Linked DNA regions of Homo sapiens. The protein of the gene in region 3 purifies or fractionates together with the protein of the main gene of each other region. This does not show direct contact. Each region holds a gene or a part of one and is shown on either strand. Other genes may lie near its edges.

Evidence for each region.
Region 1: the proteins of OXSR1 (region 3) and EGLN1 fractionate together in Homo sapiens (co-fractionation; one large-scale study listed by BioGRID). This does not show direct contact.
Region 2: the proteins of OXSR1 (region 3) and STRIP2 purify together in Homo sapiens (co-immunoprecipitation; one large-scale study listed by IntAct). This does not show direct contact.

The regions. Positions count from the first base shown.
Region 1 is NC_000001.11:231,373,729-231,377,383, reverse strand, and holds part of EGLN1 (egl nine homolog 1), read left to right. Parts: intron 1-3,284; coding exon 3,285-3,404; intron 3,405-3,655. UniProt on the Homo sapiens protein: Cellular oxygen sensor that catalyzes, under normoxic conditions, the post-translational formation of 4-hydroxyproline in hypoxia-inducible factor (HIF) alpha proteins.
Region 2 is NC_000007.14:129,451,323-129,454,977, forward strand, and holds part of STRIP2 (striatin-interacting protein 2), read left to right. Parts: intron 1-290; coding exon 291-425; intron 426-797; exon of another isoform or gene 798-894; intron 895-1,904; coding exon 1,905-2,025; intron 2,026-2,819; coding exon 2,820-2,888; intron 2,889-3,098; coding exon 3,099-3,205; intron 3,206-3,655. UniProt on the Homo sapiens protein: Plays a role in the regulation of cell morphology and cytoskeletal organization. Required in the control of cell shape. Calmodulin-binding scaffolding protein which is the center of the striatin-interacting phosphatase and kinase (STRIPAK) complexes.
Region 3 is NC_000003.12:38,227,923-38,231,577, reverse strand, and holds part of OXSR1 (serine/threonine-protein kinase OSR1), read right to left. Parts: intron 1,892-3,655; coding exon 1,843-1,891; intron 1,214-1,842; coding exon 1,148-1,213; intron 1-1,147. UniProt on the Homo sapiens protein: Effector serine/threonine-protein kinase component of the WNK-SPAK/OSR1 kinase cascade, which is involved in various processes, such as ion transport, response to hypertonic stress and blood pressure.

The DNA.
Region 1 (3,655 bases), on a different chromosome or scaffold from region 3:
CTTTAATAGCTAACTTAGTCTTCTCTTTTCACTCTTTGCTTCCTGCAGTCTAGTACAGTGGTTAATTCCATGGGTTCTGGAACCAGATTCCCTGTCATGTGACTTTGCGAATACTAATTAGCCTTTCTAAACCTCAGTTTAGAGGAATGAGGATGAGAACAGTGATACTGTTTACCTCACATGGTTGTGTCAGACAACTTGTTATGCACAAATTACTTAGATAGGACATGGCAAACAGTAAATGTCCCATAAATGTTAGGTGGTAAGAGATATTGAGGTTGTTGTGGTTGTTTTTATTCATACAGACTTGAAACTGATATTCTCAAAACATTAGTCAGATACATTCTCTGTTGGCTTCCTGGCCCTTCTTAGCACAATATCCAAAGGCCTTCCTGTGGCTTACCAAGCCCTGCAGCTCTAGGTTACCTGGTTCCTCTCTGATCACATTGGCCCGTGCTCGCTGTGTTCCAGCCACACTGGCCTGCTGCTCTTTCCTGCCTTGTTCAGCCTTTGAGCACTCATTTTCCCTCTGCCACATTGCTCTCTCTTCAGAGATTTGCCCAACTTGCCGCTCCCTTCATTTAAGTCTAAACCCAAATGTCAACCACTGTTCAAGAATATCATGTCATCTTTCTCTATATACCTAATTTTTTTCATATCTTAAGAAAATACAACTTTTCACTACCTAACATTACATTATATATCTGTTTATTGGCTAATTATGCTGTTAGACCAGATTTCATAGTACAATAGTCCCCTCTTATCTGAGGGCAATACCTTCCGAGACCAAGTGGATGCCTGAAACTGTGGATAGTACCAAATCCTAATATACTATATTTTTTCCTGTACATACATACCTATAATAAAGCTTAATTTATAAAGTAAGAGATTAACAACAACAGTAAAATAGGACAATTATAACAGTATGCCAGCATCGCTACTCTTGCACTTTGGAGCTGTTATTAAATAAAATAAGGTTTCCTTGAACACAAGTACCACGACGATTGCTCTGATGACCTAGAAGGCTACTAAATGACTAATGGGTGGATAGCATCTACAGTGTGGATATGCTGGACAAAGGGATGATTCATCCCAGGCAAAACGGGGCAGGACTGCAAGGTATTTCAGTGCACTACTCAGAATGGTGTGCAATTTATAAACTGTTTATTTCTGGAATTTTCTATTAAATTTTTTGGACTAAGTTGACCAAAGGTAACTGAAATCACAGAAAGCAAAACTTCTTATAAGGAGGGACTATGTAAATGAGTGCAAGGGACCTTTTCTCTTTGGTTCATCGTTTTAGCCCCAGTGCCTTTCATATACATAGTCGATGTTCAAGAGGTATTTGTTAAATGGATATATGGGATGTGATGGGGTGAGTGACTGACAAATATTTTCCCCTTCCTTCTTTACACAAGAGATGCTGAAGTTACCAGATAGTTGGAAAGGCCCAAATTAACTTTTTTGAGATGTAGAGTTCAGGTTTCCCCCTTCTTTCCCATGAATAACAATATATTGTGTAATTCATCATAATTACTTCAGTTAACCACAAATGGAGTAATTGCATTGTTAAATTAGTACCCTCTTACAGTTACTATTCAAGGTAAACTTCTTTCCTGGGTAGCTAGTGACAAGAAAATCATTTGGGCTCATCATTTATTGAGCACTTAAACCCACTAAGCCCATGCCACACTCCTGGTTGTTACCAACCTCCAGTGCTGAAAGAAGGAACTTGTTAAGTCTGTCTGGAATCAGGAAAAACAGAGACATATATAATGTTCTCCAAAAATTCTGCTGCTTATAAAGAGCAGTGAATTCAGAGTGTCTAGGGAAACAGGATTTTTAAATAAGGATTTAGGTTTAAGATGCCTCTTAGTTTCTTAGGGATGGGAAGTGAGTTTTAAAAATTAGCATTTTTCTTTTAATATGATAGTAGAACAATTCGGTTACTGTTTGATAACTTTATACTAATTCATTGACTTTATTATATGAAGAAATAAAGGACTTCAAGAATAGCTCATAACAAACCGGGTGGCGTGGTGGCTCAAGCCTGTAATTCCAGCACTTTGGGAGGCTGAGGCAGGAGGATCACTTGAGGTCAGGAGTTTAAGACCAGCTTGGCCAACATGGTGAAACCCTGTATCTACTAAAAATACAAAAATTAGCCGGGCCTGGCAGCATGCACCTGTAATCCCAGCTACTCGGGAGGCCGAGGCAGGAGAATCGCTTGAACCTGGAAGGTGGAGGCAGTGAGCTGAGATCGTGCCACTGCACTCTAGCCTGGTCAACAGAGCAAGACTCTGTAAAAAAACAAACAAAAACAAGAATAGCTCATAACCTTGAACGTCTTTGTTTGTTTTCTTCATAATTCCTGAGAATTTTTTAAAAAATACCATTACCAATTTCAGTTAATTATCATGTACACCTAGAATATGGAAGTTATTTTGTGCTTTTTATTTTGGGCCTCTTTTCTACCTTTAAGCTTAACATCCAACAGTCTTCTGAACCATATCTTGTTATAATCTGAGCAAATAATTTTCTTTCTGATTGAAAGAGGGTAAACATAAGCTAATTTGTTTAGTCCTTTTTTTAAAAAAAAATCACTGACACTAAATGAGTTAATGTTTGGAGTTTAGTTGACCTCCTAAATTATCCCTATTACAACATAGTAAGACACCATATCTACAAAAAATACAAAAATTAACCAGCCTGGTGACACGTGCTTATAGTCCTAGCTACTTAGGAGGCTGAGGTGGGAGAATCACCTGAGCCCAGGAGGTTGAGGCCGCAGTGAGCCATGATTGCATCACTGCACTCGAACCTGAGCAACAGAGCCAGACCCTGTCTCAAAAAAAAAAAAAATTGGTACCATTCAGAGACAGTGTCAGATGGGGTGTTGACTGGGTTGGTTCACCTATCAGATGGTAAAGTAGGTGTTCTGAGGTGAGCTCAAGGAAGATTGAAATCTCCCATGGAGCAGGACAAAAACGTACTTGATCTTGATTATCTGTATTTATAAAGATTGTCAAAGTAGGACCAAGAAATTTTTCTGATCTTTGGAGTTATCACTGTGAAGCAGAATTCACCAGTCCTTGTTCATCAACCTATCTTGTGTTCCCTATAAATGTTAATGTAGAATAGCCTTATCTTATCTACAAAATATTATTTTTATTAGAAGAATCTAAGTGTAAATCAGTAGCCAAAAATCAGAGATCTGATTTATTAGCTGTTCTCTCTTTTTATTTATACATGGACTTTAATAATCATTATTATCATTATTACAGGCCATGGTTGCTTGTTATCCGGGCAATGGAACGGGTTATGTACGTCATGTTGATAATCCAAATGGAGATGGAAGATGTGTGACATGTATATATTATCTTAATAAAGACTGGGATGCCAAGGTATGCAACTTAATTGAGCATTTATTTTTTTCTTACAGGTGTCTTTTTCTCAAAAGCATTAAGTTTCATACTTCTGATAAGACTGTCACAGACACAGTTAAAAATTTTCCTCTTAAATTTGTTTCAGTCTCAGGTATTAGGAGTGGATTTTTGTAAAATGAAACAAATACTACTCTATGTTATACAACATGATACCTGTAGTTAACAACGTAGTGTTGTGCACTTAAAAATTTAAGAGGGTAGACTCCATG
Region 2 (3,655 bases), on a different chromosome or scaffold from region 3:
TATGTAGGGAGACAGAGGGAACTCCTTGAGGAAAGGCAGAAAGACAGGACAGTATGGGCTGTGTGTGGAGGACAGAGGGGATGTTGAAGGTGAGGCTATAGACTGGGTTCAGGCCAGAACATTTTGGGTCCTTTTCCCATACCTTATTCTTTCTCAGTGAAATAAGGAAAGCTTTTGGAGAAAATAATTTTGGCAGGGGAGCTGAGATCAGAGGTGGATATGCTATGAGGAGCCTTTCCAGGAAGGGTGGCAATAGCTGACACTGGATGTATATGGCCTTTTATTCCCAGTGCAGGGCAAGGAATGGCTGGAGTTGGAAGAAGATGCCCAAAAGGCCTATATAATGGGACTCTTGGACCGGCTAGAGGTGGTCAGTAGGGAACGGCGGCTGAAGGTGGCCCGGGCTGTTCTCTACCTGGCCCAAGGTGAGTGACCACCCTTGCTAGCTTTAGAGGGGTGGAGGCTTGAGAGGGAAGTGGGCATTATCAGGACTGAGATGACGCAGGCTGTGCTGGGAAAGCAAGGTTTCTTGCCTCTCAAGGACAGATCTTGTCATGTGCTAGGAGTAACCTGTGCTTATGAGGAAGATGAGATAGTGTTGAGTGCTGTTCTAGATCCCTCGGGATCTGCCTTTATCTTACCAGGTATGTCAGAATTTTTTATAGGGTTCTTCTTTTCCCTACCCTGTACTATAATCATATGTGAATACTAGCAAGAGGTGTGGCCAGAGCTGATATGTACCACCAGCTGATCATGGAGACAAGACATCAACTGTGGCCTGGCCCCAAAACTGAGGAGAAATAGGAGAGTGTCACAGATACACATGGACCCCTTGCATTGTTTCTCATTGGCATTTTGAAAGTTCAAGCCAACATAACTGCGGGAGTGGATGCTGTGAGTAATTTGGAGATGATCAGAACTAAATAGAGTAATTGGGGAAAGCTGCTCAGAAGAAACCTGTTAGCCAGGTGTTGGAAAGGGAAATGAGATAGCCTAGCTGGAGTGAAAATAAGCCTACGATCATAAATATAAGGCGTGTTAACAGAACCAACCAGTTGGGAGCTAAAAAAAAAATTGTAAAATAAAAAAATAATAAATGAAGAGGGGAAAGGGTGGACATTAGGTGAAGAGAAGACTAGCAAATAGGACTGTGCCCTCCTGTATCTCTTGGGTCTGGTGCTCTGGCCAACTTCCAACTGCCAGTACCTTCATATGTTTGCCCAAGGACTTTATTTATCTAAGTTTTTTAAAAGAAAGTCTCACTGTGTTTCCCTGGCTGGTCTTGAACTCATAGGCTCGAGCTATCCTCCTGCTCCAGCCTCCTAAGTAGCTAGGATTATAGGCATGTGCCACCATGCTCAGCTTCTGCTCAAGGGCCTTCTCTGCAGCCCATACAGGGCATCCAGGAAGTGTAGGGAATCAGTGTGCTCCTTTAGTTTAGCACCCTCATCCAATGACTAACAGGAGTTAGTGGATGGATAGCCTGACTGTCTCACCCCTCTTGGATAGAATAACTGTGAGTTGTGTGTTTTATACTGTTTCCAAATTATCCCCTGAGTGAACTCTTTGGGCTTCCTTTTCTTCCCTATCTCTACTGATGATTCCTGGGAATGATTCCCAAATAAGCTACTTGCACTGGAATCCTTACTTACCTCAGGATCTGCTTCTGGGAGAACTCACCCTTAAGACGATAGGCCATTGATGAGCACATTGGACCTAACCCTGGAGACTACCTCTCCTCTCCCCTGACTCATTCCAGGAAGTTCTTGGGGCCCCTGTCATACCTATGTCAGCCTAATTATTAGGCAGAGTATTATAGGAAAATCTTAAGATCATGGGGCAGGGTGGAAAGAACTGGGATACTGCCACCCCTCAACCCCTGTAACAACTGTCTGGTCCTTTAGGTACTTTTGGGGAATGTGATTCAGAGGTCGATGTGCTACACTGGTCCAGGTACAACTGCTTCCTGCTGTATCAGATGGGGACCTTCTCCACCTTCCTGGAGCTACTCCACATGGAAATTGAGTGAGAAGCCTTAGGGGAAGGGCTGGCCTACATAACCCCCATTCCTTAAAGGGGCCTCATGTTCTATGCTGCTTCCCTCACTATAGAGACCCCCTGTGAGGAACTGGGTCTACTCACACCTCAGCCCAAAGCTCATTGACAGTTCCCCTCCATCCAGCCATGTTCTCTGATATTCTGTTCTCCCTCCCTGAGGTTGGATACATCTGCAGCTTCTGCCTCACTTACAGCTTTAATCCTGGGCTTCAGGGGCCTATCCTGAGTGGGTTCTCTTTTTATTCAAGGACTTTCTTAGCTCAGCCTAACTCTGGAATTCAAGAGGGAAACTATTTTGAATGCATGACCCAAGAAAGACAGGAAATCAATTCCTGTCATTGTGCCCAATTCTTTCCCTCATGGGCTATAGTTCTAGAGGTGGCCTTATTTGCTGCTACCACTACAGTGACCCCTTGTTTTGTCTCATGCCCATCACCCAGGAGTTTGAGATAGGGTGCAATCTGCTTATTATTCATCAGGTGTTTCTTAGCATCTGTTTTATGTCCAGCACAGTTCTAAGCATAGTGGGGAATGCAAGAGGAGTGGATACCACAGATCCTGCCCTTGCCTTGTCTTCACCATAGATGAGAGTTTGCTGAGGTGGCAGGGGAATTCTGTCAGCTCCTTTACTCTAGACCAGTTTCATTAGTGGCTGCCTAGCCAGGGAATGGCAAGCACTCATATTTGTGTGAGTGATAAGTAAGAGCACAGAGAGAAAAGAAGTCTTATGCATTCCTGTTCTTTTTCTCCTCCCCTGGCAGCAACAGCCAGGCCTGTAGCAGTGCCCTTCGGAAACCAGCTGTCTCCATAGCTGATAGCACAGAGCTCAGGTGAGTGGGGCTAACTATGGGCTTGGAACAGGGCAGATGATTAGCACCTGGGTTACCTTTTCCCCAAATCCCAGATGACTCAGACCATTAGGAAGTTGCCCTGTAGCTAATCTCACTGGGTTGGGCTTCCCACAGAGACCATCTCTGAGGTCTGTGACTATGGGCTGGGAATTGCCTTGGGAACCTCTTGTGACTCTTCTGTAACCCCAGGGTGCTGCTGAGTGTTATGTACCTAATGGTGGAAAATATTCGCCTGGAGCGAGAGACAGACCCCTGTGGGTGGAGAACAGCCCGGGAGACCTTCCGCACTGAATTAAGTAAGAAATGGCACTTGAGGAAGGTGTGGATGGGGTGCTAATGGGAGAGGGGAAGCAGAGCATCTGCCTAGGAGAGGCAGACAGTCGTTTTTTCTTTTGTTTTCTTTTTTAAAATTAATGTCCTTTCTTTTAGGACACAGATACTGCATGGCAGGCACAAGGGCTGGGCTTGATTGCCGCCCTGTATCTATGAGCTAAGACCAGCCATGTAACTTCTCTATGCCTTGGTTTCCTTGGTTATAAGTGGGGATAGCCATTCCTCTCCCACTCTATCACGAGTCCCACATGAAAAAATGAGTTGAATCACCTTGAAAACTGAGTTCTGTTCAAATGTAAGTTGGTGTTGTCATCTGACAGGGATAGGATATGAAGGACTATGGGATTTTAAAAATATATTTATTGATGTGGAAAAGTGAATGACATTGAGTCCTTTAGCCAGAAAGCAATGTC
Region 3 (3,655 bases):
CAGATGGTGATAAGTAGGGTAAAGGGATAGAGAGTCATGGGAGGGTACTGTTTTAGTAATCAGAGAATATTATTCTGAGGAAAGGCCAATTGAGTAGACTTGACATAAAGTGAAGGAATGAGCCAAGTGAGTTTTTAACCTAGTAGCTATCCATGAGAATAATTGTCCAGGTCTCATCCACTAGAGTCATGACTTTAATTGGTTTGGGATGACATTGTCCATGTTTCTTTCTTTTTTTTTTTAAGTCCCCAAGTGATTCTGATATGTAACGATGCATTATAGCCACTGAAAAAGATATATCTCTAAAATAGAGACAAGTTAACTGTTTTACCAGTGCTTATTAAGAATATCATTTCCAAGTATTTAATATACATTTCTGGTTCTTCATTGTGTTAAATTCTTGGAATGTATCAAAATTCCCAAGCAGTGAGATCTACGGAAGAGAATAAGCCACTGCTAGACATAATGCTTCTAACTTCTTGGACAGGCCTACCACTATATTATACAAGGTGTAAGACCTTTACCTTCTTCAAGTCTATCATCAGCAGAAGCCCAAACTGCCTCCTTTCCTTCACATTGGATAAGTCTGCTTGAGCAGAGAAGTAAGAGTGAGGAAAAGGGAGGATTTTCTTCTCCCTGCTCTCACAGAGGTTCATAAAAGTATCATGGACAGGAAGATTAATATATTCTGCCCAAACTGAGATATTAAAGCATTCTGTATGCTCACATCATGACCAAACTTCTTAGAAATTACATATGCGTAATAAAGTTCTTTCAGTCTTTCTGTAAAGGCAGTAGAAAATTTGGAGTTCCAAAGAGGGTACTGTGACTTATACCCAAAGCTATAAATGTCATGTAAAATCACAACTCACTCTGGTAGCTGGAAACAGTTATCAAACAGAGTTTAGAATTAATTTACCAATTACTGTCTAGCATCCCTTTTCATCCTAAAAGATAGCAGAGTAATACCAAGGCATATGGTAGACCAAAGATATTTGCTGAATGAATGTATCAAAGAATGCTTTAGAAAGGATCGACAGAAAACCAGTAATTCTCATATACTATTAACAATGTATTACTTAACATGTTTTCAAAATGCAAAAATAAAGTAAATTCTTCAGGAAAACTGAGTTAAATTCTGATTTACCTTTTTTGCTCTTTCAGAAATGGTTGGTGCTCTCTGCAATGTTTTTTCTTGAAGAAATTCTTTATTCTGGAGAGGAAAAGTAAGTATTTTGTTCTTACAAGTTTTTAAGGTACCAAAAAAAACCCACAAAAAAGTTCACCATAATCAAAATGTGATATAGTAACTGTTCTGTAATGAAGTGTGAGAAAAACTTTCATTCTTTCACTCTGAAGCTCCTTTAGTATGTTACTACCACAGTTTCATAAATTGAGGCAGAAAATTAAGATGTAGTACACTGTATGAACCACTGTCTATGAAGAGTTTGCTGTACTGTATGTTCTTTGAGATCATGGTCCTACATTTCCAACTACAGTAACATCCTACTATCTGATATATTTGGGAAATGAGATGTTTACAAATTCAGTAGTAAACCTTAAAACCAGAGTTCGGTATTTTTCACAAATTATATTTATAATGGCAAAATTTAATAATCATTGTTCCTATGATCAGTTTAACCTAATATTTAAAAACGGATTTACTAAATTCTGAAGCAATTATCTTAATTATCAAAGACTGTATACATAGTGCTTTCTGCAATTATTTTATCTACCATCATTTTTCCAAACATAATCATCCAACTTCTAAGCACTGAACATAATCTGAGTAATTGAGGAGCATCCTATGAACACACATAATCAAAAGCTGGAATTTCCTACCTTTGCTTTCTGGAAAAATTTGTGCCTTAATAGTTCTGCTGCTGTTGGTCTAAAACCAGGAAGGGAGGGAAGAAAAGTTTTTATAATTAATTCAAGTGTAATGTCAGATTCCATCATCAAAAATGAGAAAAAATTTTTTTCAACAGCAAAATAAAAACTCAGTATACTCTACTTTCCTTAAACTGCTAAAAAGCAAAAGTAAAATAAACTTGATACAGGACATTGAATAAAATAAAAAACTCAAAACAAATATTCTGATAATTATTGTAGATTCTTTGAAAAAATCATTAGTGAAATGTTTTTTCTGGAAGCATGATTTCTTAATAGAGTCTAATATATTTGCTATTTAATAATATTAATTTAATATTTAATATTATTTCCCAATAAGTAAGCTAGAAAATATCTATCTAACATTTTTAGCAAGGCATAAAAATATATTTAAACACACAAAGAGGAAATGGACCAAATCAAGACCTCCACTTCTTGCCACATGGTAGCCTGCCAGCCTTCAATTTAGGTAACCACAGATCCCTAAAAACAGATTTCACAATCTCCCTTTAAAAATGAAAATTCTAAAAGTATATTCCCCAAATTTAACAAAACTCAGTGTTTAACTCATTTCTTCATGGTCTTATTTCCTTTTAAGTAAAGACACGACTGTCAATTTTACAAGCTTTTAAAAGAGTATCATTCAGAATAAAGAATTTAACATTTAAGAGACTGGACCTGATTTTGCCACACACCTACCTGATCCTGAGCAAATCACAACCTCTCTAAGGTTCAGTATTACTTGGCCAAGCCCCTAAGTTCTTAAACACTGCTGTGCATTGAACTATCTGGGAAGAATGTAAAAATCCCAATGACCAGAGGGCACCATGGCTCATGCTTGTAATCCCAGAACTTTGGGAGGCCAAAGTGGGTGGATCACGATATCAGGAGTTCAAGACCAGCCTGGCCAATATGGTGACACCCAGTCTCTGCTAAAAAAACCACAAAAATTAGCAGGGCATGGTGGCGTGCGCCTGTAGTCCCAGCTACTTGGGAGGCTGAGGCAGGAGAATTGCTTGAACCCATGAGGCGGAGGTTGCAGTGAGCCAAGATTGTGCCACTGTACTCCAGCCTGGGCGACAAAGCAAGACTGTCTCAAAAACAAACAAACGAACAAACAAAACCAATGACCAGGCTGTACCTCAAACCAATTAAAGCAGAATCTTTAATTGGCTTTAGTAATGTTTAAAACTCCCCAGGTAATTCCAATAGGCATTCAAGTTTAAGAACCAGCACCTCAGATGATTATTATAAAGATTAAAAAGCTGAATAAATGTGAAAGTGCTATGCAAACTGAAATCCTACATTATCACTCTTATTTTTTCATATGCTCAACAATTGCTTCTCAATATGCTCAACAATGTGATTGCTCAACATTGCTTCTTATTATTCATTCCTTTCTTCTGACTTCATTTCCTTCTTTCTAAAGTACAACTTATGGGTTCTTTAAGTGACAGAACGTGACTGGAAAACTCAATTTCTGTGTGCAAAATAATTTCATGCTCATTCTTGAATGATAGTCTGACTAGCTGGAGAACTCTGGGTTAAAGTCACAGTCATGAGCCTCTTAATGCTTTGGCCAACAATATACTGTGTATCTGACAGTAGTCAGAGCAACAGGCTACACTAAATAGCCTAGGCATGCAGTAGGCTGTACCATCAAAGTTTGTGTAAGTACACTCCACGATGTTCAAACAATGACAAAACTGCCTAATACACATATTACAGAATGTATCCTCATCATTTTAAGTGACACATGACTGCA